5 separate regions of the Homo sapiens genome follow, and regions 1, 3, 4 and 5 are each linked to region 2. The links come from fine-mapping of genetic effects on gene expression. A gene starts in region 2. Each other region holds a variant in brackets. All regions are shown on one strand. Distances are between the middles of the regions. Region 1 holds the start of WBP1L (WW domain binding protein 1 like). Region 2 holds the start of SLC68A1 (solute carrier family 68 member 1). Region 3 overlaps SUFU (SUFU negative regulator of hedgehog signaling). Region 4 holds the start of ACTR1A (actin related protein 1A). Region 5 overlaps SUFU (SUFU negative regulator of hedgehog signaling).

Region 1 (6,035 bases), 280 kb before region 2:
AGTGAGATCCTGTCTCAAAAACAAAACAAAAACAACAACAACAAAAACAAACATTCTGGTTAAATCTAAACAACCAAAAGAAACTCTATGTATCTCAATGATAATTTAACTGGAGGAAACAAACGCCAAGGCTGTCGGAGCCTTACTATTTGGAGCATCTACTGTTTTCTCATTCTTTTTTTTTTTTTTTTTTTTTTGAGACGGAGTCTCGCTCTGTCACCAGGCTAGAGTGCAGTGGCATGATCTTGGCTCACCACAACCTCTACCTCCCACGTTCAAGCGATTCTTCTGCCTCAGCCTCCCGAGTAGCTGAGACTACAGGTGTGCCACCATGCCTGGCTAATTTTTGTATTTTTAGTAGAGACAGGGTTTCACCATGTTGGCCAGAATGGTCTTGATCTCCTGACCTTGTGATCTGCCTGCCTTGGCCTCCCAAAGTGCTGGGATTACAGGGGTGAGCCACCATGCCCAGCCTTTTTCATTCTTTATAGATTTAAGGATTCACGTCTGTGAGTTGTAATGTCATAACCTGTAGGAGAGTTAAGTCTAAGTTCCTAACCACAGAATGAACTAGCTGATGAACTTTCCAGGGCCTGCCTGCATAAACAAGAAATGGCTGTTTCAGTGCAGAGCTGGTAACAGGGAAAGCAAGTTGCCTAGTATCATTTATTTCTGATGGTAAATGTGTATGTAAAAAAAAGATTGTGCATGTAAAAAAAAGATTGTATTGTAAGTAGATCAATTTTGTGGGAGAAATGCAATAAGGTACCAATACCATTATTCGATACAGAATGAGTATAGTAAGTCCTCCTGAATTCAAAGTTAGCTGGACTTCATTGTTGAATTAAGGACCATGGGTACTTAAAGTATGCCCTGTGCCAAAATGGCCTTGGGATTTTTTTTTCCTTACTGATTTGTACAAGCAACCCCTTCCCCCACCCCCCCCAAAAAAACCCAAAAAAATACACTGACTAAATTGCGGTGGATTCAGAGTTAATAATTATATAGTAACTTGCATTCCGAAGGTTAAAATTCAAAACAGAAATCTCACTATAGATATCTAGTACTCCCAGACAGAAAGAGACAGGAGTATAAGGTGGGGGATGGAATTGTATAGGGAGCGTCAGGAGTGAGGGTATGTGGGGGCTGGTTAGGAAGAGGGCCACTGCTCATTACGAAAACTTTCCCTTCTCTGCAGGAATTGTAACCGTGTAACAGCTGTTGGTCAGTGATAGCATTCATCCAAATGGAACAAAGTACAAAAGACACCTGTCCCCAAAATTAAGTATTAGAAGTGCCACAGATATAAGAAAGCAGCCTGTGGTTTGCAAACTGCAATTAGAATATAACATTAACAATCCCCTTCCACATGTTCACAACACCTCCCAGGCTCCACGACCTGGTAGGAACCTCCACTTTCCATCATCCCCGTTGCTGAAAAAGTGGATCTAGTTCCTATCTTTGACCAGCCCATCTCCAAAGGCTCTGACATTCCTAAACCAAACCTCTACCGATGTTATTTATTGGTTACTGGGGACAGCCTTTTCGAGATACTTACAGAAACAGACATGTGCAAAGGAAAAGTAAATTCTGTATTTACTATATTCTATATTTTGTTGTCAATACCTATACTTAACTTTACTGGTCCTGAGGGCTATAACATTTCTAGTAAACAAAAAAAATATATTTCTTCTGCCAGTTTATGATTTCCACTGGAAAAACAACCCCAACAAAGGCTAAAACAGAAGGGTCCCAACCCTCGAAAAGGGAATACACTGGGCTAGAAAATGAGCTACATTCCTTTCACATGGTATTTCTAGTATACACAAACATATCCTGAGGAAAAATTAGACACTTCAATGCATAAATAAATTGTGGTTTACAGATAACAGAATGTTACTTGGTCATGAACAGGAATGAAGTACTAGTACATGCTACGATGTGGATGGGCCTTATAAACATTACGCTAAGTGAAAGGAGCCAGGCACAAAGACCACATATTGTAGGATCCCGTTTATATAAAATATCCAGAATAGATAAATCCATAGAGACTGAAAGCAGACGGGTGGTTGCCAGGGGCTGGGGGAAAAGGGAGACAGAGAGTAACTGCTTAGTAGGGACGAGGTTTTCTATTGGGGTGATGAAAATGTTTTGGAACTAGATAGAGGTGGTAGTTGCACAACATTGTAAGTGTACTAAATGCCACTGAATTGTTCACTTTAAAATGGTTTTTGTCATGTGAATTTCAACTTATTTTTTAATCAGTATTTTAAAATAGAGGATAATGGGCAAAACAAGATGTATTTGTGAAAAGGCAGCCCTAAAACTCCTAGGGAAAAGATAAGTATTTTTGCTGGCACTCAGTTTCTGCTCTTGTTCACAACACAAGTTCAAGCGCTAAGTTGTATAAACTTTGCCACTACGCTATGCGTCTATGTGTGTATGCCTTTCTGAAAAAACGGGGAAAAGAACAGAAAGTGAAGAAAAAAGAATCATAAAGCTTTGCCACATGCAAGGAAGGAGGGGTGATTGCCCCCACTGCACCCCACCCAACTTGGCACCAGGAGTAACGCTCCCATTAGGGTTTTGAAATGCCAGCTGGAGCTGGAATCAGCACAAGCAAGCTTCTCTGCCTGGATAAAGAGCAAGCCACCCAGCAAGAAAAGCTAGGGTGCTCCATTTGCTGCCCATATTGGCATCAGAACCACCCTCTGGTCAAAAGCCCTGAGCTGGCTCAGATCAGCATCCGTGACTTGCTCTCCCAGGCCAGCCAGCCTAACAGCAAGAGCTTGTTACAGCTCAAGTGTGCTCCTCCTCCTGAGGGGTTCCACTCTGTTTCATCCCACCTGCCTTCTGAGAGTCCTCCCTCCAACCAAGTGCGCCATGGCTTACAGATTTTAAAATGGGGCCAAGTCTCTCCCAGGAACATAGTAATTTTTTTTAAACGTACTAAGATGCCCTCGGAACTTTCCCCAGTCCATCCTTAAAGAAATATCCTCAGGATCCCCTCCCTCACAGGCCAACTCAATAGCCTGTGTACCCCTACACACACAGACGTACATACTGCATTACTGCCTGGGACACCTGCTCCACAGAGGGACACGAATAAGGCCCACATCCTCAGCTTGGCACCGCTATCCAGCCACAGTCACCCCAGCCCACCTAACCAACCTGCCGTCTCAAACGCCCCTCACTCGCTTGGCATCATGCCTCTGCCACCTCCTTGACACCAAAACTGTCACAGGTGTCCCTCAGCTAAATACCGACGCCCCTTTAGATCCTGTCCACGCCAGGCATAGACGCCCCTCTCGGGACCCCTCAACTCTTGGCAACAACACTCCTTCAGACCCCTCCAGCCAGGCCTCGACGACCCCCAGGACCCAACATGGCCCAGACGCCCCCTCCCCCTTACCTGCGGGGGTTCAGCCCTGGCTGACAAGGGGCTGGGCAGCGCCTGGAGGAGCAGGAGCGCCATGCCACCCA[G/A]GAGCCTTCTCCTCTCCATCCCCCTCCTGCTCCTGCTCCTCCGCCACGGCGCCGCCACCTCCCTCCTCCTCCTCCCTCTCCTCCTCTACCCTCTTCTTCCTTCTTCCCTTCTTTTCCTGTTTGACGCTCCCCTCCCGCTTCCGGCTCTGCTCCACCCCGCCCCGCGCAAAACACCCTCCCAGACACGCGAGAGACTCTCCAGTTCCAGCGCTTCATTGGCCTTTGCCCTTTGTCCATTGATCAATGTAGCTGTCGATCAAATATAAGTCCCGCCTTCCCCTGAAGACGAAGCGATGCAGCCAATAAAAAGTAGGAGGAAGCCGGACCATCTTGAATGCTGCGAAGAAGTGTAAAATTCGTCCCAACCCGCAGAGAGTGGCGGAAGCAGCTTCATAAGGGGGCGGGGCCACCCAGGTGGATGGAAAAGTCTATTTCTGATGTAGCCATCTTGAGTGTGGCGGAAGTACTAGTTTTCCAGTTTTCCACATCAAAAAAAGAAAAAAGGTTTAATGTTTCTCAAGGGTGTTGGAAAATAAATTATTCCTGAAAGGTAACCAGGCGCTCCTGAAGAGGAAAACAATTGCAATGTAAAAATATTTTAATGTCTTTTGTCTTGAAGCACAGCACTATTACCAGGATGCCTCTCTTGGTCTCAACTGCCCAAATAGCAGCTTAGGTCCGTTTGAATTCCCTAGAAGATAGTACCTTTATCTGAGGCATAGTGCTTCGTCACCCCAAGTTCGACGGACAAAATTCTGGTTCTACTTCACAAATTGCTCTGAAATCCATCATCCATTGCTTCAATCCATGTTCTTCTAGCTAAATACAAATGGCTTCCCTGCTGCCCTGCAAGTTGACAATTCTTCCTCTCAAATTTCCGCCACACACTACAACCATACCACATTAAACCAAATATTACTATATCATGGCCTCTTCTTTTAAATACTTCATCTACCTACAGAATAGAGAGTCCAAACTTCCCAACACGGTCCTCTCTGTGACTTCGTCCCTGTCTACTTCTCTTTATCTCACCTCTCACCACTACATTTTCCCACACATTCCACTCACACTGACCATTGAAGAGATGCCCAGTAACTTCATTTACATATTACAGATACAGTTCCCTGCTTACAAACTCCTAGCCCCATCTCCTTGCTGCTTCTTCTGGATTCTTGTAACACTTATATCTGCGTGCCTGGTTTGCAGTTTTTTGTACAGCATACCAGGTCTTTCTTCTTCTTCTTTTAAAGCCTATAATATCCTGTACAAGGCTCAACCAGAGCTTGATCAATGTTGGTAAAATAGCCAGGTGTGGTGGCTCATGCTTATAATCCTAGCCCTTTGGGAGGCTGAGGCAGGTAGATCCCTTGAGCTCAGGAGTTTGAAACCAGCCTGGGCAACATGGAGAGAACCCTGTCTCTACAAAAATAAAAAAACTAAATTAGCCAAATTAGCCAAGCATGGTGGTGCACACTTGTAGTCCCAGCTACTTGGGAGGCTGAGGTGGGACAATCACCAGAGCTAGGGAGATTGAAGCTGCAATGAGCCTTGATTGTGCCACTGTACTCCAGCCTGGGCAACAGAGTGAGACCCTGTCTCAAAAAAAAAAAAAGGCCAGGTGCGGTGGCTCCTGCCTGTAATCCCAGCACTTTGGGAGGCCGAGGTGGGCGGATCACATGGTCAGGAGTTCGAGCCTGGCCAACATTGTGAAACCCAATCTCTACTAAAAATACAAAAAATTAGCCAGGCGTGGTGGTGCATGCCTGTAGTCCCAGCTACTCAGGAGGCTAAAGCAGAAGAATCGCTTGAACCTGGGAGGCAGAGGTTGCAGTGAGCCAAGACTGTGCCACTGCACTCCACCCTAGGTGACAGAGTGAGACTCTGTCTCAAAAAAAAAAGAAAAAAAAAAGTTGGTAAAATAAATGGACAAAGGAAGACCCATGGCAAATAACACAGTTGACTTTAGCAGTCAATTTCCTCTCAAAAACCTGTCAAAGTGTTTTACAGCCTGGCCCAGTCTAGCCCACATCTGAGCCCAGAGGAAGTTGTTCTTGGCTTAAGTGTTGGAAAAATGGGAAACAGGTAAGAGTTAAGTCAGTCTTCCCTCAGCTTAAGAAAGTCCATAGTTCTGCCTTTATCTTGATCCTGCTTTTCCAAGTACTATAAAAAGTGACACGTATTTTTGCCAATCTCTCGTTTCTTAGAAATTTATCCATTCCACAAGTCAAGCTCCTTAGAGGAGAAGTAAAAATTGAGTACTAGGGAAGGACCAAATTATTTTCATGGCACAAGGTCTCTAATTCCTGGCCTCAAAAAGTTGTAAGTCTTCCACATAAAGGCTAGGTTTCATCATCACTAAGAAACCCCAGGTGGGATGTAGTGGCTCACGCCTGTAATCCCAACACTTTGGGAGGCCAAGGCATGAGGATTGCTTGAGGTCAGGGGTTCAAGACCAACCTGGGAAACATAGTGAGGCCCTCTGTCTACAAAAAATTTAAAAATTAGCTGGGCATGGTGGCATGTACCTGTAGTCAGGAAACCTTTAGGATTCT
Region 2 (6,191 bases):
TTCCTCTTTTTTTTTTTTTTTTGAGACAGAGTCTCGCTCTGTTGCCCAGGCTGGAGTGCAGTGGCACAATCTCGGCTTACTGCAACCTCTGCCTCCCAGGTTCAAGCAATTCTCCTGCTTCAGCCACCCGAGTAGCTGGGATTACAGGCATGCACCACCACGCCCAGCTAATTTTTGTATTTTTAGTAGAGACAGGGTTTCACCATGTTGGTCAGGTTAGTCTTGAACTCCTGACCTTGTGATCCACCCACCTTGGCCTCCCAAACTGCTGGGATTACAGGCATGAGCCACTGCGCCCGGCCTACAGTAGCCATTTTCTTTCCATTTCTTTGAAGTTTGGTTTCATGATTTTTTTTTTTTTGAGACGGAGTCTCACTCTGTCGCCCAGGCTAGAGTGCAGTGGTGGGATCTTGGCTCACTGCAACCTCCGCCTCCCAGGTTCAAGAAATTTTCCTGCCTCAGCCTCCCAAATGGTTGGGATCACAGGCGTGCGCCACCATGCCTGGCTAATTTTTGTATTTTTTGTACAGACGGGGTTTCGCCACGTTGGCCAGGCTGGTCTTGAACTCCTGACCTCAAGCAATCCGCCCGCCTTGGCCTCCTGAAGTGCTGGCTCACAGGCGAGAGCCACCGTGTGGTTTCATGATCTTTAAAGATCAGTCACTAGGTGGGGCGTTGTGGCTCATGCCTGTAATTTTAGGACTTGGGAAGGCCAAGACAGAAGGATTACTTGGGGCCAGAAGTTAGAGACCAGCTGGGGCAACATCAATCAAAAATAAAAATCATTGACCTTTCTGCCAAATCCATGATTGAAATTGTCTTTCCAGCACCCAAGCTTTATGCCTTTTGCCACCTGGAATATCCTAGCCCCTCTTGTCTGCCATCCATCAAATTCCTTTCTAAATGCCACCTCCACACTTTTGTTCATGCTGTTCCTGTCACCTAAGATACCCTAGGATAACTATATACTATTCCTCAGCCATACAGGGTATGCTTGGCTTTTATATCCATCATCAGACCCCTTACAGCTCTGTTACTATCTGCATTCACGTTCTGTACATGAAGAAACCAAGGCTCTGAAGATTAAATAACAGGCCCAAGTTACAAAGCTAGTAGGTGCTGGAGTCAAGATTCAAAACAGGTTTTGACTAAAACAACAGCGTTCTCACTTCATCATCCCCCCCACACCCTGCCCCCATCTTATCAAATCCTGCTCATCCAGTGTCACGGCTTTCCCAAGCACACCCAATCACGTGTTCTCTCCCGTTTTCCCCCTTATCAGGCATCCAAATGCCTCCCTTCCCCTCCTCCAGCCCACAGGCTTCTTAAAAGCAGGGCTGATACCGGGCGCGGTGGCTCACGCCTGTAATCCCAGCACTTGGGGAGGCCGACGCGGGCGAATCACGAGGTCAGGAGATCGAGATCATCCTGGCTAACACGATGAAACCTCCTCTCTACTAAAAATACAAAAATTAGCCAGGCGTGGTGGCGGGCACGCCTGTAGTACCAGCTTACTCGGGAGGCTGAGGCAGAATAGCGTGAACCCGGGAGGAGGAGCTTGCAGTGAGCCGAAATCGCGCCACTGCACTCCAGCCTGGAGGACAGAGTGAGACTCCGTCTCTTAAAAAAAAAAAAAAAAAAAGCAGGGCTGGGTTAGTCCCGCCCTTGATCCCTGCCCTTTGCCTCCACCAGGCTCCCTCAGCTTGCTCAGTCAATCCCTGCTGGGTCGATTGGCCCCTAAAAGGTCAATATCAACAACATCCTCAGCCCTAGGGAACAGCAGCAGCAGTCATAGGAAAACTGTCATCTTCAGACCCCACTGTGCCCCTCCTAGCTCTGTGTTCTGCTTAACTGTGGGAGTCAGAGAGAAGGGGCAGCCTGGGAGGCTTGATGTGCCTCTCTGAGTAAGACACTAAAGCAAGGCAGCAGGTACAAAGAAGAATAGTGATCATAACAGAGGAACATTTATTAAGCTTTCGCCGGGTGCACAGCACTGTGCTAAGAGACACAGAAACAATCTGGGAAGAGAGCTCAGAGCAGCGCGGGAGAAAGGGGCCACATCAGGAAGGGTTTTGTAAACCTTGTGCAAGATTCTATGCTGAGGACAACAGGTGGGGCGCTGGGGGTGGGGAAGTGACAGATCTGTTTGGAAGAAGCCCTCTAGCAGGTGTCAAAACTCTTCCCCTTCACCCTACCAGGCCCCTGGTAGGTAAAGACTAGAAAGGGATGGAAGCAGCAACATCTCCCTGATTTCTGAACCAACCTATGGTGGGTGGGGGAGGTTGATGAATTTAGTGGCGGAAACCAAGAATGCCGAACTGGGCCCCTGGAGTGAGAGGTATCAGACTGTACAAGAGACATTAGTGCAGAGGTAAAAGCTAAGAAGAGGCATAATTTGGAGTCAGGAGCCCTGGGTCAGGTGTGAACATTATCTTTAACTTACTATCTGAGTCTATTCCTACATCTGTGAAGCAGAGAAAACAATTCCATTCTCTGCCTATCCTCAGGAATACCAAATGAACAAATGAACATGAAAGGTATAATATGTGCCCTTTTCTCAACAGGCAGCTGACCCCTGAATTGTCTGCTGTGTTTCCTGTTTCACTCTCGGGGTCTTGTCTTCCTGCCCAGTCTCCCCACAGCAGGGTCTAGCACCAGGGTTGGGGGGTGGGGGCCCATCCTCCTCCTCCGGCTGGAAATGAGCTTTCAACTTGTTGAGATGGGGACCTTCTCCCTCTCCCTCCCCCACAGGTCCCAGAAGAGGCGACAGCTTCACCTCAGGACCACCCACCCCTCCCAAGCCACTGAGGAGTTTGGGATCAGCCCAGGAGCTCTTCACTCAATAGCTGGTGCTGAAACACGTGTAGGGCTGCTCCCCACCGCCTGCACGTTAAAATCACCTGAGGAGCTGTGCAATAATACCGAGGCCCAGGCCTCACCCAGAACAGTTAAATCGGAATCTCTTCGGGCGGGCCCAGCATCGGTGTTTTTCAAAGCTCCCCAAGTGCCACCAGGGTTAAATGCCTTTATGCTAATGGCACGGATCCCGACCTGACCAGTGCATCCCTCGATCCCAGACCACCAGGGAGCTATTTGACCCACTGCATCCCTTTCCTCCAGACCCCCGGAGAGCCTTTCTGCGAGGATTCCACCCTTGCCCCCTTGAACCCCGCTTCTTCCGCCCGGACCACACAACTCTCCCAATCCACAATATGATCACCCCAAAGACCCCCGCAGATAGCCCCCATGACTCCCAGAGCGCAAAGCATTCCCCTCCCCCTCGGGTCTGTCGTTTGTGCCAGATCGGCCCCAGCCCAGCCCGCTCCTGCCCGCGAGCCCCGGCCGCTGGCCAGCGTCTCACCGCAATCGTAGCCGGCGAAGCCTAATCCCACGGCTGGCGGGAGCCAGGTGCGAGCCAATGCGCCTGCGCGCACTTCTAGGGCTTCCCCAGCCTCTCCCTCCGCCCCCGCCCAGCGATTGGCTCCGCGCGGCCCCCGGGCGCAGCTCCGGCAGGTGACTGCGCCTGAGGCTGCCGCCGCCATGTTTGTCACGGGCGCTTGCCCTTAGCGACCAAAATTAAAAGCGGACACTGGCAAATAGGGTCAGGTTGCCTGGATTCCTGACCGGCTCAACCCCTCTCCTTTACCTCCACGATAGCTTAATGTCATTTCAGTTGAAACCAACACGTTTTTTCTAAGCGCTCACCTTCCTTCCCTCCTTGCCTAGTACTCGTTGGGAGAACAAAGAGAGGTCAGCATCCTCCATTGAGTCTTGTGGTCTGAGCGGATGCACAGCTGCAGCCGACTTGGAGGTGTCAGCGGCTCGATCTGGGACTCCCTGATGCTGCATCATGAGCCCTTCAAGGGTGGACAGGTCCAGGTTGAGCTGTGGGCACCAGGGCTCTAGCCACAGGAGCCAGGGCTGAAGGTGGGAAACAGCCACCAGGGCCTGAATGAGCAACCATGCAGCACAACCTCTTTGTATTAATAACGGCAATAATAAAACCTAAGGAGTACTGAGTGCTTGCTATGTGCACCGTACTACATTCAGAACAACACGTGCATTCTCTTGTTGAGTCCTCACATCATTCCTAGGAGGTAGGCGCTTTTATCCACATTTTATATGTGAAGAAACTGCATTTCAGAGAGATTCAATGACACGCAAACAGCAAGGGCCCAGTCGAGGTGGAACCCGCTATCCTGACTCCCATAACAAGAGTCTTTCCTCTTCCCACACCTGCACAATCCCTCAAAATCAAGTTTTGTTTGGCTCAATGTAGGCTGTGGAGGATGTTTTATGTTTTCTCCCAATTGGCCTGTAAGCCTGGATAGGTTTTTGGGCAAGCAAACAGCACACATTCCAGCTCTGCCTGGTTCCCCTACCTTGGGACACAGGGCAAAAAGCCTGTGGCCTTTGCCTTATGGGGGACTTGGAACTCAACCCCTAGCTCCAACACTTCTTTGCTAAGGGACTTCTTTATTATTATTTTTTGAAACAGGGTCTTGCTCTGTTGCTCAGGCTAGAGTGCAGTGGTGGCATGATCTCAGCTCACTGTAACCTCCACCTCCCTGGCTCAGATGATCCTCTCACCTTAGCCTCCCAAGTTGCTGGGACCACCACCTCACTCCACCATGCCTGGCTAATTTCTAGAATTATTTGTAGAGATGGAGTCTCACTATGTTACCCAGGCTGGTCTTGAACTCCTGGGCTCAAGGGACCCTCCCGCTTCAGCCTCCCAAAGTGCTGGAATGATAAGCGTGAGTCACTGCACCTGGCTGGGACCCTCCTTTTGTGAGTCTGTTTTATGCTTTACAGGGATTTTTCAGACATTAAATGAGAAACAAGGGTGTAGGAGCTTTGTGAACTGCTCATCCTTATGACCTTCATTGATGGTTGTCGGCTAACTTCCTGCAACAGGAATGTTGTCCTCCTCCTAACAACCACAGCAAATGGTCCAATGTAGACGCCTAGTGTCCAGGGGCTACAGATTATTCAACCAGTTCCTGAGGAGCCCCCAGGGATGCCATGAACCTTGCCCCCAGAATCCATCTCCCACTAACCTGTCTCATTTCCCTCCTTCCCAATCTCTCTCTTTCGGACACCCTTCACACTTCCCATGTCACCCCAAGCCACACATACACGCACACACATACATACAACCATCTCTCTTCTAGACTTAGACAACTGCTGAAACTCCTCCTGATCCAGAAAGCCTCATGAGTAGAAGACAGGTGATCATTTTGTCCCTCTCCTCACCTCTTACCTCCATCTGTGCTTTCCTGGCTGTGAGAACAGAAAACCCAGCATTCAGCCTGGGGTCCGGCACACTGGGATCTCCATACATTTGCTAAAGGAGTCTCCCCGCCTTTCTATCTGTGGCCAGCATGTGCTTTTATTTCAAAGCAAACCCGAGTCTTTACTTAGCCCTCCCTGGGTATCCAGTGGGGAAATGGAAATGGGGAGGGCTGGCAGGGGCCAGAGCTGGATGTGACCCAGGAGAAAAGACCTTTGGTCCCTCACAGCCAGGCAAGGTGGCTCACACCTGTAATCCCAGCACTTTGGGAGGCTGAGGTGGTTGGATCACGAGGTCAGGAGATCGAGACCATCCTGGCCAACATAGTGAAACCCCATCTCTACTAAAATACTAAAATTAGCTGGGCGTGGTAGCGTGTGCCTGTAATCCCAGCTACTCAGGAGGCTGAGGGAGGAGAACTGCTTGATCCAGGGAATCGGAATTTGCAGTGAGCCAAGATTGCACCACTGCACTCCAGCCTAGCGACAGAGTGAGACTCTGGCTAAAAAAAAAAAAAAAAGAAAAACAGAAAAAAGAAAAAAAGAAAAGACCTTTGGTCTCTCACGTTGCACTTAATGCCCCACAGTTACACTCTGAGGCCCCTCAACCCTCTGATTATATAGACAACGTAGCCAGTTACCTTTTATGTCAGCATCAGGGCAGGGCCTTGTGATTCTGTCTGATTTCTCTTTGTGGTTGCCAGTCACAGAGCTAACTGGGAGGGGAAATGCAATGAACTAGAGGCCATATCACCTCCCTAACTCATTGAGCCATACCGGAGTCCCTGGACCATGGGACAGATAGATTGTGCACTCTCTGTCTTTGAAATTCTCTCCTCCCTTTACTTCCCACCTCTCTGATCTAGTTTCTGCCATGTTCTCTTCCTACCTAATAATTC
Region 3 (6,191 bases), 67 kb before region 2:
TCCAATATCTTACTTTGAAGGCACCAATCCCTTATTTGGGACCCTGACCAAGAGAGGGCTCTCATCACTTCTTCCTTACCCCTGTGCAAACCTCCATCACAGGACTCTCCTTGCTGTATTGCAGCTGCCTATCTCTCCCATCAGGACAGGATTTACCCCTTTGTACACCCCACTGACTGGCACAGGAGTGCTCAGTGAAAGCAGCCGAACAAAGGAATGGGCATCAGCTCAACAAGAAAGGTGACCTGTCCAGCAAAGCCAGTTGGGACTACAAAGGCTGGGCGATGGGAGTAATGAGGCTGAACCAGTCCTGCAATTTTGAGCTTCTGATGTTGACTCTGGGGGTGCCTGGCCCCTTGGTTAAGACTCCAAGGCTCTCCAATTTTTGATCTGTCAGTTTACACAATTAAGAAATTACTATTTTTATTTTTTATTCTTTTAGAGATAAAGTCTCACTCTGTTGCCCAGGCTGGAGTGCAGTGGCATGATCGTGACTCACTGCTGCCTCAGCCTTCCAGGCTCAAGTGATCCTCCTGCCTCAGTCTCCTGAGTAGCTGGGACTACATGTGTGCACCACTACACCTGATTACATTTTTTTTTTTTTTTTTTTTTTGGTAGAAATGGGTTATGGGGTATTGCTATGTTGCCTGGACTGGTCTCAAACTTCTGGGCTCAAGCAATCCTCCTGACTCAGCCTCCCAAAGCGCTGGGACTACAGGTGTGAACCACCATGCACAGCCAAGAAACTACAATTTTCTTGATAATTACTATTATCATTTATTACAAAACCAGGAAAACCATATATAGTCCTCTATTTGACCACTGCTTTCTTGTTGGACATAAGGTTGCTTCCAAAGCTATGCCTTGGAAAATATTTTTGTGCATATTACCTCGTTTCCTTCCCATATTTGGGTTATTTCCTTGGGATTAAGAGTCACAGAAGGCCAGACATGGTGGCTCACACCTGTAATCCCAGTACTTTGGGAGGCCGAGGCAGTAGGATTGCTTTAGCCCAGGAGTTCAAGACCAGTCTGGGCAACATAGTGAGACCCCATCTCTATAAAAAATTTAAAAATTAACCAAGCATGGTGGCACAAACTTGAAGTCCTATCTACTCAAGAGGCTGAGGCATGAGGACCACTTGAGCCCAGGAGTTTGAGGCTGTAGTGAGCTATGACTGTGCCACTGCACTCAGGCTGGGCAACAGAGTGAGTCCCTGTCTCCATTAAAAAAAAAAAAAAAAAAAAAGATTTAAAATAGTGGACAAAGGTAAAGAGAAACTAAATGCCAGCCCAAGGTTATGGGCTGAAGGACTTAGGCAGAGTGTTGAGCCTGGCTTAGAGACAGGGAAGTTGGGAAGTGAGGAAGGCAGGTGTCAGACATTCTTAGTCTCACGATCTTTGGACCCTTTGGAGGTCTCTGGGTGGACTTAGGTGGAAACTGCATGAAATTATTAACATATTACTCCAGCATCCCAATAAGATGCCAGAGAGGAGCCCAGCAAAGTGGACGAGAATACACGCTGTGGAAGCAACTGAGCCCATCAAACCCCAGCTCCACCTTTCTCTAGCTGACTGGTGGGCAAGTTAACTTCCATGTGTGCAAGGCTCCTCATCTGTAAAACTGGGAGAAGAACACTCATCTCATAGGGTGGGAGGTTTTAGTGTGACAGCACAGTGTCTGGCACCTAGCAAGTGCCCTTCCACGGCAGTTAGTGTGCAACTTTCCTTTTTCTTTTCTTTTTTTTTTTTTGAGACGGAGTCTCACTCTGTCGCTAGGCTGGAGTGCAGTGGCGCGATCTCGGCTCACTGCAACCTCTGCCTCCCGGGTTCAAGCGATTCTCCTGCCTCAGCCTCCCGAGTAGCTGGGACTATAGGTGCATGCCACCATGCCCAGCTAATTTTTGTATTTTTAGTAGAGATGGGGTTTCACCATGTTGGCCAGGATGGTCTTGATCTCTTGATCTTGTGATCTGCCCGCCTTGGCCTCCCGGCTAATATTTGTATTTTTAGTAGAGATGGGGTTTTAGTAGAGATAAAGTCTCACTCTGTTGCCCAGGCTGGAGTGCAGTGGCATGATCATGGCTCACTGCTGCCTCAGCCTTCCATATTGGCCAGGCTGGTCTCGAACTCCTGACCTCGTGATCCACCCGCCTAGGCCTCCCAAAGTGCTGCGATTACAGGCGTGAGCCACTGAGCCTGGCTGCAACTTTCCTTTTCTTAGTACTCACTCAAAGCAAACTCTGCTCATCATTTATCCTTTAAAATATCAGCAGATGCCTCCAGCTTCCCTAACTTCTGGGCTCTGGATCTTAATCAGCCCAGTCCTTCAAAAGCTGCTTTCAGCTTCACCCAATTTCCTGACCTTGGGTCCCTCCCAGAACCTTCTAACCAGACCTGAGATTTCCTTTGTGAGATGCTTTGAGTCACAGCCATTACAACAGAATTCAGTCAACAACTACTAAATAAACAACTGCAGAGATTATTTTTTATTTATAATTCAAAATTACTGATACTTTATTAGACATTTGAAAATGGTGTTGGGTGACAACACAAATACTACTGTATGTAGCAAAACTTTGTAAAAATAACTTTTGAAATATGTTTATATGATAATATTCTGATATAGCTAAGCTTTTAAGCCTCCAGTTATAAAAACAAAATAATAGAAAAAAAACCCATAAATCTCGTTATATTTAATCAATTTTATATAATCTTAAAAAAAAAAAAAAAAA[G/AG]AAAGGAAAAAAGCCACATCAGCGAAGACTGCACTCTCATACTCTGACCTGGGAGTCCAATAAGGCTACAGTGCAGCAGCCACCTTTGAGTTGCAACTCTGGGTTATAGAAGCTTTCTTTGCGCTATACCCCAACCAACCAGATTCATGGAATGCATTTGCCCCACTCAAGTAGATGGTTCCTGAGACATTTTGCTGGGAGCCAAAGACCATGTTCCCACAGCATTCCTCAAGTTCAAAAACAGTGGCTCCCAGCACTGATTCGGCTGAGAATCCAGTCAAATAAACTCTTCCGGCTCCCAACACTTCAGGCAGCTTAACTCTGTCCTGGGCTTTCAGTGAGCAAAGGGTTTCCTGGAATAAGACACTGAATTTTATTTTTATTTATTTTTTGAGACAGGGTCTCACTCTGTTGCCCAAGCTAGAGTGTAGTGCCGTGATCACAGCTCACTACAGCCTTGATCTCCTGGGCTCAAGTAATCCTCCCACCTCAGCCACTGAGTAGCTGAGACTACAGACACATGCCACCATGCCTGGCTAATTTTTTTTATTATTTGTAGAAATGAGGCCTCACTATGTTGCCCAGGCTGGTCTTGAACTCCTGGGCTCAAGCAGTTCTCCTACCTCGGCCTCCCAAAGTGTTAGGATTACAGGTGTGAGCCATTGTACCAGCCAAGATACTGAATTTTAGAAATTCTAAGCCAAGGGCACCAGACCCTTTCTTGCAGGGTGGTAAAAGCTCACATTCAACCATCCCCTGCTGGACATCTGTTGCACCTTCTTCCATCTACTCCCAACCACCCCCAAACTCAAAGGTCAGCCAGCCCCCAGGGGACTCCTAAGCCAGCCTGGAGCGCTACAGGAATTCTGGGCCAAGGAAGAAGCCCAGTGCTTGGGTTTCTTGGCATCAATATGGTAGCTCCCACTCTTGGCTTTGGCTTAAAGCAACACCTTTACAAAGGTCTTCTTAAAAATAAAAAAAGACAGGCTAGGCCAATGGCGACAAGATCACAGTCTGATTTGGGAAGCGAGGTGCCCTCTGTGCCTAAGTATGCAGCTTGGGGACTTCTTACTGACCCAAGAGGCAAGGCATCTACCCAAGGGCCTTTTGTCCACCCACTCTCCTCCAGAACTCTGGGAAGCCAGCCATCCCAGAAGATCAAGAAACCTAAACAGGGCAATGGGAAGAAACAAATCTTTTTGGCATTTCAGTTCCCCAAGGGCAAGGACTGTACTTTTTGTGTGTTCTGTACATGAATACATCATGTCATGGCTGAGCAATGCTAAATGGTAATAATATTCCCACTGCCACCCAAAGAGATAATCAAGCCGAGACATTCAACAAGATAAGATGGTATTAAAAAGCAATGTGCCTCCCTCTTAGTCACTATCAAAGTAGATTCAAATATCTTCATGGCTTTGAATGTCATGATGTACTATAAATATACATATATATATATATATCTTAATGGTATTTCCTTTGAGCCACTTTTGCTACTATTTCCTTTTTGGGGAAATAAAACCGTCACTCAACTCAGTTCTCCTGTCTTCATACTAAAGCTGAGGTCCCACACTGGAATGCTTCCTAAAACCCCACTCCAGCCTCCATCATATCATCCTTTTTCTTTCCTCATCAGTCAACAAATAATTTATTGAATGTCGGCCGGGCGCGGTGGCTCACGCCTGTAATCCCAGCACTCTGGGAGGCCAAGGTGGGCGGATCACAAGGTCAGGAGATCGAGACCATCCTGGCTAACACGGTGAAACCCTGTCTCTACTAAAAATACAAAAAGTTAGCCAGGCGTGGTGGTGGGTGCCTGTGGTCCCAGCTACTTGGGAGGCTGAGGCAGGAGAATGGCATGACACCAGAAGGCGGAGCTTGCAGTGAGCTGAGATCGCACCACTGCCACTGCACTCCAGCCTGGGCGACAGAGCGAGACTCCATCTCAAAAAAAAAAAAAAAAAAAAACAATAATAATAATTATAATTTATTGAATGTCACATTCTTTACATTGTCTTCAAACTCTGCAACCTCATCTTGTTCCACTGTTCTCTCTTACCAAGCCTCAGATGCACTGGCCTTCTTTCTTTTCCTTAAACACTTCGAGGTCCGTGCTGCCCTCAGGGCCTTTATACTAGCTGTTTCACTGCCTAGGACCTTCATCAGGACTCCCAGCATTGTACAACTCCAGGGGGCAGCAATTGCACAGAATAATGTGAACGGTGGCCCTAGAGTTGTACAATGTGACAGCCCTGGCTGCCACCGGTCTTTGAGGTCTCAGTTCAAATCTTCAAGGAAGCCATCACTGATTACTGCTAACAGCATCCTCCCCACCCACCTCAACCACTACTTCTACCCATGTAAGCTCCAGAGTACCATCCCTGCTTTTTTAATTTTATTTATTTTTTTAAGACAGGGTCTCACTCTGTCACCTAGGCTGGAGTGCAGTGGCACGATCTTGGCTCACTGCAGCCTCTGCCTCCTGGGCTCAAGCGATCCTCCCACCTCAGCCTCCCAAGTAGCTGGGACTACAGGCACGCACCACCATGCCTGACTAATTTTTGTATTTTTTGTAGAGATGGGGTTTCACCACATTGCCCAGGCTGCTCTCGAACTCCTGGCTCAAGTGATCCACCCCCCCGTGGCCTCCCAAAGTGCTGGGATTAGAGGCATGAGTCACCACACTTGGCGCCCTGCTTTACTTTCATTTTTTTAAGAGACAGGGTCTCCCCATGTTGCCCAGGCTGGCGTGCAGTGGCTATTCACAGGCACAATCCCACTACTGATCAGCACAGGAGTTTTGACCTACTGGGCCAGGTCACCCCTCCTTAGGCAACCTGGTGGTCCCATGCTCCTGGGAGGTCACCATATTGATGCTGAACTTAGTGTGGACACCTGACTGGCATAGTGCATAATAGCCCAGAACTCCTGAGCTCAAGTGATCCTCCCACCTCAGCCTCCTGAGTAGCTGGGGCCCTGCTTTATTTTCAACACAGCACTTGTACTATCTAAAACTATATAAAATTTTTCATGTTTCTCCAATAAGAATATAAGATTCATGAGAGCAGAAACCTTGCCTGCTTTGCTTTCCATGGTATCCTCAGCACTAAGAAAGCACTGGATATTTAGGTAATGTGCTCTAAAAATTTATGAAAATAGGCCAGGTGCAGTGGCTCATGCATGTAATCCTAGCACTTTGGGACACCGAGGCAGGTGGATCACCTGAGGTCAGGAGTTCAAGACCAGCCTGGCCAACATGGCAAAACCCCATCTTTACTAAAAATACAAGAAACTAGTTGGGCATGGTACTGCGTGCCTGTAATCCCAGCTACTCAGGAGACTGAGGCAGGAGAATCGCTGGAACCTAGGAGGCAGAGGTTGCAGTGAACTGAGATCGCAAGATCGCACCACTACACTCCAGCCTGGGCGACAGAGCAAGGGTCCATCTCAAACCAAA
Region 4 (6,191 bases), 39 kb before region 2:
GTCCCACGAAAGCAGCGAGAAGTGCGCCAACAAAGGATTTGTTACTGTTTTGCTGACGCGCTGCTAACTAGGATTTAAACATAAATCTGACAATGGATTGATTCATTCATCCATGGGGCGTTAGTATTAATAGATGATAATAAATCTAATGTTTTCTAGGGCTATTGACAAAAAGGTCCCTGAAATTTCAAGGGGGCTGGGGGAGAACATAATCCAGAGAAAAAAATGCACTGGGCTCATTTGAAAGCAGTGACACATAACCTCTCTTCACCTCCATTTTCTCAACCATCAGTGTCAATTCTAGCTCGTTATGAAAATTAAAGAGATACTCGAGCAGTTTCTGAAACCCTTAGATGATGTTTTAATGACCAAAAGATTACCTATACCAGTAGTTCCAATTGCCAATCTTCGGATCAATGTTAGCCTGTTATGCAGAAAAAAAGAAAATGCAAAAGGCAACGACAATGTACAGGTTTTTAAACTTAAAGCTAATTTTATGCAATTTAAATTGTTTTCCTTTGTTGTAGGAATATGTCCTCTCGCGTACGTGTGTTAACATTTCCTTTTTGTTAGAGTGTGAGGTGCTAGGAGATGTTTATTAAAGTCTTACAGACCCAAATAAAAACATGAGAACCTTATATTGTCTAAGGGAACGTCGGGGGGAGTGGCAGGGCTGATCTGCAAAATCCAAACATCCATGAATTACGACCAATCCAAACCGAACTACAGACAAGTACTCGAGAAGACTACATACCTCAGCATGCACTGCGAACTCCTTCAAAGGGACTACAGATCCAGGCATGCAACATGACCATCAACCTGTGTCTCTGGCTGTTTAATCTAGGGAGACCACAAATCCCAGGGTACTGCGCATTGGAAATGCGACTCCCAATCTTAAACTAGGCGGGCAACAAAGCAAGCTAGATCGCTAACCCAGGCGCAAAGCTTGCTGGGGATTGTAGTTCTTCAGAGGCGAGGTCGGGCCGCTCCCTCGCCGCCCTGAACCGGCGGCTAGACTGCGCATGCGTGTCAGTGGCGCTAGCGGCGGACCCGGCTGGGCAGTTCCTTCCCCAGAAGGAGAGATTCCTCTGCCATGGAGTCCTACGATGTGATCGCCAACCAGCCTGTCGTGATCGACAACGTGAGTTGCGTCTTTCCTATCTATAAGGGGACTTGGGCTCTCCTCCTCGAAAGGATCGCTTCCCGGGGTTCAGCCTGAGCCGCCGGCTCTTTGTCACTGGCCCGGCCTGTCAGGCGCGTTCAGCCACCGCCGCCTCCTTCCTCCCCTTATCACATAGTCCGCAGGCAAGGCGGCCAGCCAGCAAAAGTGGGATGGAGAACTCTGGAGTGGATAAAGGAAAGAGTTATAGTCCAAGCCAGTCCTTGGGCCCTTGGCTCTAGGGGCCTTAACCGCTGTGTGAGATTCCCGTCGCCCGCCCTCTCCCCCATTTCCGATCGCTCTATTGGTTGCTCTGGCTGTCCATCTTAGCCAATGATACCGCCTCTTAGCCTTGCCGGATGAGGCTAGGCCTCTGCGGTGATTGGCTCACGCCCCTGCCATTCTTCCTTGCCGCCATATTGTTTTCCCTCTTGAAGGGGCGGGGCAGTGCTCCAGGGCTGTGGGGATTGGCTTCCGGGACTCTGGGTGGTGGGGCCTAGAGGCGAGTGCCCGCCCGCGGGTGGAGAACGGCTAAGTTTTCCTTCGGTCTCAGCCGGCGCTGCGGCTTGGTGGTGTGGATCTGGGTGGGGCCCGAGAATCTGGTGCCAGAAACCGCTGTAGGATGTCAGCTATTACTGTGATTATAAATTACAAAGTTGGTAAAGGTCGAGAAGAAAGGAGAGTGACAAAGGAAGCAGAGAGGTTGTCCTCCTCTTTGGAACGCCTAGTTCTTACGGGGAAAAAATTACCAAACTTAATATTTGCCTGGCGCTCTAGCGCTTCCAGGGCGTTTTCACATACATTCGAGTTGGATCCTCACAAAAACTGGACGCATAGTTTAAAAGGAACTTTGATCTTCGTGTTACCGATGAGAAAACTGAAGCGCGAAGACGTAACGTGAGCCCAAGGTCACATAGCAGAGGTGCCCTAAATCCAGTACTTTATCCGTCATCCCTTTTGCCAGCACCACCATGCAGAA[G/A]CATCAATATTGACCAATAGAAAGAATCTAAATACTGCTCTTATTTTGGGGGGAAAGGAGAAAATTGTAAAACGACTGCATTTCTGCCTTCGATTCAAAGCTTTGGTCCCACAGAGATTGATCCCTGTCTGTGTCCCTTGTAGGTCCCTCCATTGAGGCAAAACTACCAGTTCCCTCTGTTGTAAGCTGACTCTGTCAGATTCCCTTTGTTGATTCAGCTCTTGGGACCTTAGGCATATTACAATGTTCTCGTTTAAGCTTCAGCTCTGTTAGGTAGATAGGAATTACTATCCCCAGTGTATGCAGGGATGTTAAATAACAGATTTCAAACCATCCAGTTTAGGAATTGAGGAGCCAGTCATCAGACTAAGATCCAGTTCCAAGTTGCTTGCTTTTTCCAATATATTTTTGTTGTTGTTTTCATTAAATTTTCCTTCTCTCCATGGGTATTTTGTTTTTATTATTCCCCCTTAGAAAGGGGCAGGATTGAGCTCAATGAGACAGCTCATTTTTTTTTTCTTTTTTTTTTTTGGAGACAGGGTCTCGCTCTGTTGCTGAGTCTGAAATGCAGTGGCGCGATCACAGCTCACTGCAGCCTCAACCTCCTGGGCTCAAGTGATCCTCCCGCTTAAGCCTCCCGAGTAGCTGGGGCTGCAGGCACGCGCCACCACCCCTGGCTAATTTTTGTATTTTTTGTAGGAAGGGTTTCACCATGTTGTCCAGGCTGGTCTCAAACTCCTGGGCTGTTGCGATTCTCCTACCTTGGCCTCCCAAAGTGCTGGGATTATAGGCCTGAGCCACCGTGCCTGGCAGAGACGCCTCTTTTTTTGGTGTGGGGGGGTGGAGGGAACAGGATCTCGCTTTGTCACCCAGGCTGGAGTGCAATTGTGCGATCTCAGCTCACTGCAGCCTCCGCCTCCAGGTTCAAGAGATTCTCCAGCCTAGACTCCCAAGTAGCTGGGATTACAGATGTGCACCACCACGCCTGGCTAATTTTTGTTTGTTTGTTTGTTTGTTTGTTTGTTTGTTTGTTTTTGAGACGGAGTCTCACTGTCGCCCAGGCTGGAGTGCAGTGGCGCGATCTCGGCTCACTGCAAGCTCCGCCTCCCGGGTTCACGCCATTCTCCTGCCTCAGCCTCCCGAGTAGCTGGGACTACAGGCGCCCGTCACCTCGCCCGGCTAATTTTTTGTATTTTTAGTAGAGATGGGGTTTCACCGTGTTAGCCAGGATGGTCTCGATCTCCTGACCTCGTGATCCGCCCACCTCGGCCTCCCAAAGTGCTGGTATTACAGGCGTCAGCCACCGCGCCCGGCCTAATTTTTGTATTTTTAGTAGAGATGGGGTTTCACCATATTGGCCAGACTTGTCCTGAACTCCTGACCTCAAATGATCCACCCGCCTTGGCCTCCCAAAGTGCTGGGATTACAAGCATGAGCCACCACACCCAGCCCAGATACTTCATTTTTGAGAGGATCTTTTTGTCTCCCTCACTAGACTATTAAATCCTTGTGGAAAAAGATGATATTCTCCCACAGGTTTAGTGGTGTTGGGAAAAAAAATTTAAGAAAGATGATATTCCTTTAGTCTCACTTCACCCACTTCTCTCCACACACACACAGTATACCTAGGGTCTGGCACCTCTGTGTGCTCAATAAATGTTTTTTCATTGGATTGATGGGTGATTGGATGAATGACTGAATATCTCTATCAAAGTAACAAAGATATTCCTAAATAAAGAAAAGATGGGGAGTTTTCTCTAGTTAGTTACTGCAGATAATTGAGTAGGACTTTTTGTTCTTGATGTTGATTTTCAGAGAGCACTACGATTTCTGTCTTTAGCCAGGCTCTTTGTGCTTCTTCTGCCTTTTTCTTAGTTGTAAAAAGGAAAAATATATAGAAATTCAATTTCCTGTTTTCATCAGCAATGCAGAAGGAACAACCTGTCTATCCCACCAGCTCCTTTGCTTCTTGAATTGCTAGGCAGGAGTTCCATCTCCGGCCATTTTCTTTAATATCACTTACACTAATGCGTCTTAATTTTTTTCTTTCTCTTTCCTGGTAGTATGTTTCGAAATGCATTACAGCAGTGATGCATTTTTAGTTTCAAGATTTAAAGAATTGACTTGTCTTTTTTTTCCCCCTCTGGGAAAACATGTCCTTTATTATGCCAGTATTTCTGCCAAAAGGTGAAGTAGGAGAAACTTAAGTCATTTTCCTATTAGTATTTGCTGAAAATCTGCCACATTTTTACATGTGCGGTCTCAGGTAGTCCTTGTTGTTTAACATTTGGGGGGTCATTTTGTTTTTATTATTTTCAAGATGGTAGATGTATAGGAAACATTATTTGAAATACCTGAGACAACTTATTACATATAATGAGAATAATGTATCACTAGCTATGTTAACTCCATAGCTTAACATGTTGCTACACTTTATTTATGGGCAGAAGAGTATAATCAAAAGAATGCAGGAGAAAGAAAGCAGGGAAAGAGCCCCATTAAGTTCACAGCCTTTCCCAATCATAAGACAATTGTGACCACGTCTTTCATCTTACTCTGGCATCAAGTCATTTCATCAGAATTTAATGAGGAAAATGGAGGGGCAGGTAGGTGTGTGCTTTAATGACAACAATAAAGTGATAGGTATTTTTTTAATCACCCAAGAAGCTTTATGATGATAGATATTTTTTAAAACCAAATATAAGTCATTTCTTCCCAAAGACATAGAGAATAGTGTAAGATAGGAGCAGCTCCTAGGCCACATTTTGAGGACTACACTTTGATCAGAATACTATGTTTATTCTGAAACTCAAATTTTTCCTAAGATCCAGGCCAAATGTGGTGGCTTACTCCTGTAATTCCAGCATTTTGGAAAGCCAAGGCTGGAAGATCGTTTGAGCCCAGGAATTGGAGACCAGCCTGGGCAACATAGTGAGACTTCATCTCTACTTTAAAAAAAAAAAAAAATTAGCCAGGCTTGCTTGGTGGCATGCACCTGTAGGAGGCTGAGATGGGAGAATCACTTGAGCCCAGGAGTTTGAGGCTGCAGTGAGATCGTGCACCTCACTCCAGCCTATTTAAAAACAAAAACAAAAAAACTCTAAGTTTACAGTTTTGCCTGAACCTAAAATGGATCAACATTCCTGTCAAACTTAAAACTGTCTTTGTGACTATATGGACCTAAATGCAGGCTCTTCAGAAGTTCAACAATAAGCTAAGCATTTGTTTGTTTTGCTTTGGATGTTGTGCTGCTTCAGCCCCCTTTAAAAAAAAAAAAAGAGAGAGAGAGATACTTTAAACACACAGAAAAATTCGGTGTGGTATATAACAAGCACCCAGGTAGCATGTGTCTACTACCCAGATTTAGTAAATATTGATGTTGCCATATTTGCTTCAGTATTTTTTTTGCTTTAGTGTTCCCATCCACCTTCATGTTTTAAGGAAATAAAACATTACAGATATAATTGAAGACTCTTTGTACCCCTCCACAACCCTATCTTTTTTTTTTTTTTGAGACAAGGTCTCACTCTGTTGCCCAGGTTGGGGCTCATTGGCACAATCAAAGCTCACTGCAGCCTCAGCTTGCCAAGCTTAAGCAATCCTCCCACCTCAGCCTCCCAAGTAGCTGGGACTACAGCCGTGTACCACCTGCTCAGCCTTTTTTTTTTTTTTTGTAGAAATGGGGTCTCCCTGTGTTCCCCAGGCTGATCTAGAACTCCTGGGCTGAAGCAGTCCTCCCACCTCAGCTTCCCAAAGTGCTGGTATTACAGGCATGAGCCACTGTGCCTGGCAACCCTATCCTTTCTCTCTGTTTTACAAATAATCCGCAAAACAACCATCATCATAAAATTGTCCTCCTTTTATACTCTGGAAGATAAGTCAGGAGAATTGTGTTGTTCAAGGCCAGCCTGGGCAATACAGCAAGACCCCCATCTCTTTAAAAAAAAAAATTGTGCTCCTTTCCACCTATGATTTTTTTTAATTTTTAATTATTATTTGTTTTTAAATTTTTTTTAGAGATGAGGTCTCACTCTATCACCCAGATTAGAGTGC
Region 5 (6,191 bases), 110 kb before region 2:
GAGCAGCTGGGATTACAGGCGCGCACCATCATGTCCATCTAATTTTTTTTTTTTTTTGAAACGGAGTCTTGCTCTGTCGCCAGGCTGGAGTGCGGTGACATGATCTCAGCTCACGGCAACCTCTGCCTCACAGGTCCAAGCAGTTCTCCTGCCTCAGCCTACCGAGTACCTGGGACTATAGGCACGCGCCACCATGACCAGCTAATGTTTGTACTTTTAGTACAGACAGGGTTTCACCATGTTGGCCAGGATGTTCTCAATCTCTTGACCTTATGATCCACCCGCCTCAGCCTCCCAAAGTGCTGGGGTTACAGGTGCCACTGCACCCAGACTAATTTTTGTATTTTTAGTAGAGATGGGGTTTCACCATGTTGGCCAGGCTGGTCTCGAACTCCTGACTTCAAGTGATCCACCCACCTCGGCCTCCCAAAGTTCTGGAATTACAGGCATGAGCCATCATGCCTGGCCCCAAGCCTCTTTGTTCTTTGTTTTTTGTTTTTGTTTTTTTTTTTGAGACGGAGTCTCGCTTTGTCGCCCAGGCTGGAGTGCAGTGGCGCGATCCCGAGTAGCTGGGATTACAAGCGCCCACCACCACGCCCAGCTAATTTTTTTGTATTTTTAGTAGAGACGGGGTTTCACCATGTTAGCCAGGATGGTCTCGATCTCCTGACCTCGTGATTCACCCGCCTCGGCCTCCCAAAGTACTGGGATTACAGGCATGAGCCACCAGCCTCTTTGTTCTTAAAGCCAAAGGGACTAAGGAGGTTTTAAACTCGTAGTCCTGGCCAGGCACGGTGGCTCACGCCTGTAATCCCAGCACTTTGGGAGGCCGAGGCGGGCAGATCACGAGGTCAGGAGATGGAGACCATCCTGGCTAACATGGTGAAACCCCATCTCTACTAAAAATACAAAAAAATTAGCCGGGCATGGTGGTGGGCACCTGTAGTCCCAGCTACTCAGGAGGCTCAAACAGGAGAATGGCGTGAATCCGGGAGGCGGAGCTTGCAGTGAGCCGGGATCGTGCCACTGCACTCCAGCCTGGGCAACAGAGCGAGACTACGTCTCAAAAAAAAAAAAAAAACAACTCGTAGTCCTATATACATTTCAACCAAAGAATGCCAGGAGGGCTGGGTGCAGTGGCTCACGCCTGTAATCCTAGCACTTTGGGAGGCTGAGGTAGGTGGATCACTTGAGCACAGGAGTTTGATACCATCCTTGGCAACATGGCAAAACCCTGCCTCTGCAAAAAATACAAAATTTAGCCAGGTGTGGTGGCACATGCCTGTGGTCCCAGAGGCTGAAGTGGGAGGATCACTTAAGCCCTGGGAGAGGGAGGCTGCAGTGACCCATGATCACACCACTGCACTCCTGGGTGACAGAGTAAGACGTGAGACTCCATTTCCAAAAAAAAAGAAACAAGAAAAAAAAATCCCAGGAAATCCTTTGAAGCTTTAAAATCCAAGACTAGCCTGGCCAACATGGTGAAACCCTGTCTCTACTAAAAATACAAAAATTAGCTTGGCGTGTTAGTGGACGCCTATAATGCCAGCTACTCAGGAGGCTGAGGCAGGAGAATCGTTTGAACCTGGGAGGCGGAGGTTGCAGTGAGCCAAGATGGTGCCACTGCACTCCAGACTGGGCAACAGGGTGAGACTCCATCTCAAAAAAAAAAAAAAAAGAAAAGAAAAAATCCAGGACATGCTTCTACTCCTCCCATCTTCTTCCTGAAGAGACCAGTTAAATCAGGAATGAAAACCCATTTAGACTGGGTACAGTGATTCACACCTGCAATCCCACAGCTGAGGCAGGAAGGTCGCTTCAGACCAGGAGTTCAAGACCAGCCTGGGCAACACAGTGAGACCCTGTCTCTACAAAAAAATTTAAAAATTAGTCAGGCATGGTGGTGCACACTTGTAGTTCCACAGCTACTTGGGAGGCTGAGGCTTGAGGATCATTTGAGCCAAAGCATTCCAGGTTACAGTGAGCTATAATTGTACCATTGCACTCCAACCTGGGCAACAGAGAAAGACCCTGTCACTGCAAAACAAAACAAAACATTTAGTTGCCATGGACCTATAAACTAGTATGGTCACTTTGGAGGACCAAATGGCAGAATCTATTAATATAAAAGGTAACTTCCCTTTGACCCAATCATTCTACTTATAAATATCTACCCTAGAGCAAAACATGTCACAAGGAGGAATGAATAAGGATGGTCACTGCATCTTTGTACTGTTTGTAATACTGCAAAAATGGCAACAACCTAAAGGTGCATCACCAGGGGAATAGTTAAATTATGGTTTATTCATACAATAAAATCACAGACAACAGTAAAAAAAATTAAATAAAGATCTTCAAGACATACCGTCAACTGAAAAATCCAATTGTGAAGGGCAGTACAGTTTCATTTACATTAAAGAAAGAAAAAAAAACATAGAAACCCAAACCATTTCATAGGTACCCAGAAGAAGGTGAATACATAGAAAAAAATCTGGCAAGCTGCAAGGACGCACACCAAATGGATAAAGAGGGTTTCTTTAGCGAGGGCCCTGAGATTGGGTGGGGTGGTCACAGAGAACTTTGACTTTATCTGTATAGTCTAAGTTTTTAACATCTGAGGTCAGTTGCAGTACCTCATGCCTGTAATCCCAGCACTTTGGGAGGCTGAGGTGGGTGGATCACTTCAGTCCAGAAGTTCAAGACCAGCCTGGACAACATACCAAGACCCCATCTCTACAAAAAAAAAAAAACACAGAAAAATTAGCGGGGTATGGTGGCATGTGCCAGTAGACCCAGCCACTCAGAGGCTAAGGTGGGAGGATCACTTGAGCCCGGGAGGTTGAGGCTGCAGTGAGCCAAGATCA[C/T]GCCTCTGCACTCCAGCCTGGCCAACAGAGACCCCGTTTCCAAAAAAAAATCTGAAATTTATTTATGTATTATCTATATACTTAATGTTGGAAAGATGATCCTCCTCCTTGACCCCTCTGCTATGTGGCACCAGCAGCCATCACACTGGCTACTGTGGCATCACTCCAAATGCAGTGGCACTAATCTGGACATGCCAGGAAGCTAGGTGGTATGATTTGAATGTCTGCCTCCTTCAAAAGGTATGTTGAAACTCAGTCTCCAATCTAGCAGTATTGAGAGGTGGGGCCTTTAAGAGGTGATTGGGTCATGTGGGCCCTGCCCTCATATATAGATTAATAAGTTAATGGATTATCACAGAGGTGGACAATGGGGGTAGAAACTGGTGGGTTTATCAGAATAGAGACCTGAGCTAGCAAGTTCAGCCTCCTTGCCATGTGATGTCCCTGGGACTCTGCAGGGACTCCTCACCAGCAAGAAGGCCTTCATCAGATGGGGCCCTTTAACCTTGGACTTCTCAGCCTCCATAACTGTAAGAAATAAATTCCTTTTCTTTATAAATTAGCAGTTTCAGATATTCTGTTATAAGCAGCAGAAAATGGACTAGAACATTAGGAGCCATCCTTGGCTGGCAACTAAAATGGCACCACTGGCATTTTCAACCAGGCTAGCTTTTTAAAAAAATTTTGAGACAAGGTCTTGCTCTGTTTCCCAGGCTGGAGTGTGGTGGCACCATTATGGCTCACTGTAGCCTTAACCTCCTAGGCTCAAGCAATCCTTCCACCTCAGCTTCCCGAGTAGCTAAGACTACAGGCACACCACCATGCCTAATTTTTTTTTTTTTTTGAGACAGAGTCTTGCTCTGTCACCCAGGCTGGAGTGCAGTGGCTCAATCTCAGCTCACTGCAACCTCCGCCTCCCGGGTTCAAGTGATTCTCCTGCCTCAGCCTCCTGAGTAGCTGGGACTACAGGTGCATGCCACCATGCCGGGCTAATTTTTTGTATTTTTAGTACAGACAGGGTTTCACCATATTGGCTAGGCTGGTCTTGAACTCCTGACCTCATGATCCGCCTGCCTTGGCCTCCCAAAGTGCTGGGATTACAGGAGCCACTGTGCCCGGCCTGTTTCAAGGCTTTTTTAGTGACGAAGATAAAATACATTTTTTTTAAAAGAAAGAGAAAACACATCTTTTGTTCATCTTGCTAATTAGAATCCAAATTTAAGAATATAACATTTTTACTTATTTGATTTTATATTTGTATCTTTTATTTATTTTATTACTGTTTTAGAGACAAGGTCTCACTGTGTCACTCAGGCTAGAGTGTAGTGGCACAATTACAGCTCACTGCAGGCTCAAATTCCTGGGCTCAAGCAATCCTCTCGTCTTAGCCTCTCAAACAGCTGGCACTACAAATGTGAGCCACAACGCCTGGCCATATATTTGTATCTTTCTAATCTTATGCTGAACATCTTGCTTTCTAACATAATTACTTATTTGCTTTATCCTATTATATCCATATACTAGTTTTAGGTTAAAGTCAATATTTTTATTAACAACATGATTACTGAAAACAGTTTTTTCTGTCTTTGTGTATATATTAGGGATATACAGACAAATTACTATAGTTTAAGATCTCTGTATATTGTTTTGACACCAATTTGGTATGCTGTGAATTTCACTTGTTTTATTTTGCTTCTGAGTTTTAGGAAATGTGGCAGACAGACTCTAAGGTGCCCCCATGGTCCCCAATCCCCTTGGTACTCAAGCCCTGTCTAATACTTTCCCCCAAGTGTGGGCGAGACCTATAACTTGCTTCTTGCTAACAGAATATGGCAAAAGTAAAGATATTTTAAAGATGTAAAGTAACATCCCAAATCATTTATTAATTTTTTTTTCAGTTTTAGTTGTAGTAAAATACATCAACATAAAATTCACCAATTTAGCCATTTTTAAGTGGCATTAAGTACATTCATATTGTTGTGCAACCATAAGAAGCTTCCATTTCCAGGACTTTTTTTCATCTTCCCCAACTGAAACTCTATACAGTAAACAGTAACTCCCCATTCCACTGCTTCCAACCCCTGGAAACCAACATTTTGCCTTCTGTCTCTATGAACCTAACTACTCTAAGTACCTTATGTAAGTGGAATCATACAATATTTGTCTTTTTGTGTCTGGCTTATTTCACTTGCCATAATGTCTCCTGGGTTCATCCATGTTGTAGCCTGCAGCATGTGGCAGAATTTCCTTCCTTTTATTAAGGCTGAGTAATATTCCATTATATGTATATACCATACTTTGTTTACCCATTCATCTGTTGATGGACACTTGAGTTACTTCCACTTTTTGGATGCTATGAAAACTGGTGCACAAATATCTGTTCAAGTCCCTGCTTTCAATTCTTTTGGACACATACCCAGAGGTGAGATTGCTGGATCATACAGTAATTCCATTTTGAACTTTCTGAAGAAGCACCAGACCATTTTCCACAGCAGCTGCACCATTTTACATTCCTATCAACAGTGTACAAGGGTGCCAATTTCTTCACATGCTTGCTAACATACTATTTTCTGTTTTGTTTTGTTTTTTCTTTTTTTGATAGTAGCCATTCTAACGGCTGTGAGGCCAAAGTAGATGATTTTGTGTTAATTAAAATGGAGGCCCTTTTCACAAGACGGTGCCGAAAGCAAAGAAGGAAGCTCCTGCTCCTCCTAAAGCCGAAGCCAAAGCAAAGGCTTTGAAGGCCAAGAAGGCAGTGTTGAAAGGTGTCCACAGCCACAAAAAAAAGAAGATCCGCACGTCACCTACCTTCCAGCGGCCCAAGACACTGCGATTCTGGAGGCAGCCCAAGTACCCTCAGAAGACCAACCCCGGAGAACAAGCTTGACCACTATGCTATCATCAAGTTTCCACTGACCACTGAGTCTGCCATGAAGAAGATAGAAGACAACAACACACTTGTGTTCACTGTGGATGTTAAAGCCAACAAGCACCAGATCAAATAGGCTGTGAAGAAGCTCTATGACACTGATGTGACCAAGGTCAACACCCTGATTCAGCGTGATGGAGAGAAGAAGGCATATGTTGGACTGGCTCCTGATTACGATGCTTTGGATGTTGCCAACAAAATTGGGATCATTTAAACTGAGTCCAGCTGGGTAATTCTAAATATATGTATATCTTTTCACCATAACAACAACAAAAAAAAGGCTGGGCATGGTGGCTCACTCACACCTGTAATCTCAGCAGTTTGGGAGGCCAAGGAGGGTGGATCACGAGGTCAGGGGTTCAAGATCAGCCTGGGCAAGATGGCAAAACCCCATCTGT

What was found.
Region 1: its variant is fine-mapped to the expression of SLC68A1 in whole blood (TOPMed, PIP above 0.99).
Region 3: its variant is fine-mapped to the expression of SLC68A1 in prefrontal cortex (BrainSeq, PIP 0.95).
Region 4: its variant is fine-mapped to the expression of SLC68A1 in whole blood (INTERVAL, PIP 0.90).
Region 5: its variant is fine-mapped to the expression of SLC68A1 in whole blood (TOPMed, PIP 0.98).

What each region holds. Positions count from the first base shown.
Region 1 is chr10:102,741,521-102,747,555 of GRCh38, reverse strand. SFXN2 (sideroflexin 2) reads right to left here. Exons shown (of 12, transcript NM_178858.6): 12 at 4,064-6,035. WBP1L (WW domain binding protein 1 like) reads right to left here and starts at 3,608. Exons shown (of 4, transcript NM_001083913.2): 1 at 3,413-3,608. The coding sequence starts at 3,502. RefSeq lists enhancers at 2,742-2,971, 3,912-3,961 and a silencer at 3,472-3,631. The variant G/A (reference allele first, on the strand shown) is at 3,484.
Region 2 is chr10:102,458,621-102,464,811 of GRCh38, reverse strand. It overlaps SLC68A1 (solute carrier family 68 member 1), which reads right to left and starts at 3,417. Exons shown (of 10, transcript NM_024789.4): 1 at 3,362-3,417. It overlaps LOC124902493 (a long non-coding RNA gene), which reads left to right. Exons shown (of 3, transcript XR_007062270.1): 3 at 2,752-4,019. RefSeq lists enhancers at 2,335-3,017, 3,018-3,701, 3,829-3,898 and a silencer at 3,339-3,558.
Region 3 is chr10:102,525,505-102,531,695 of GRCh38, reverse strand. All of the region lies in intron 2 of SUFU (SUFU negative regulator of hedgehog signaling), which reads right to left. Among named protein-coding and RNA genes, the nearest start is that of SUFU, 25 kb to the right of the region's middle. The variant G/AG (reference allele first, on the strand shown) is at 2,735.
Region 4 is chr10:102,497,550-102,503,740 of GRCh38, reverse strand. It overlaps ACTR1A (actin related protein 1A), which reads left to right and starts at 1,029. Exons shown (of 11, transcript NM_005736.4): 1 at 1,029-1,141. The coding sequence starts at 1,094. It also overlaps a transcript of SUFU not described here. RefSeq lists a silencer at 631-700 and enhancers at 1,051-1,150, 2,545-3,045. The variant G/A (reference allele first, on the strand shown) is at 2,139.
Region 5 is chr10:102,572,573-102,578,763 of GRCh38, reverse strand. All of the region lies in intron 3 of SUFU (SUFU negative regulator of hedgehog signaling), which reads right to left. It also overlaps the pseudogene RPL23AP58. Among named protein-coding and RNA genes, the nearest start is that of TRIM8-DT, 68 kb to the left of the region's middle. The variant C/T (reference allele first, on the strand shown) is at 2,865.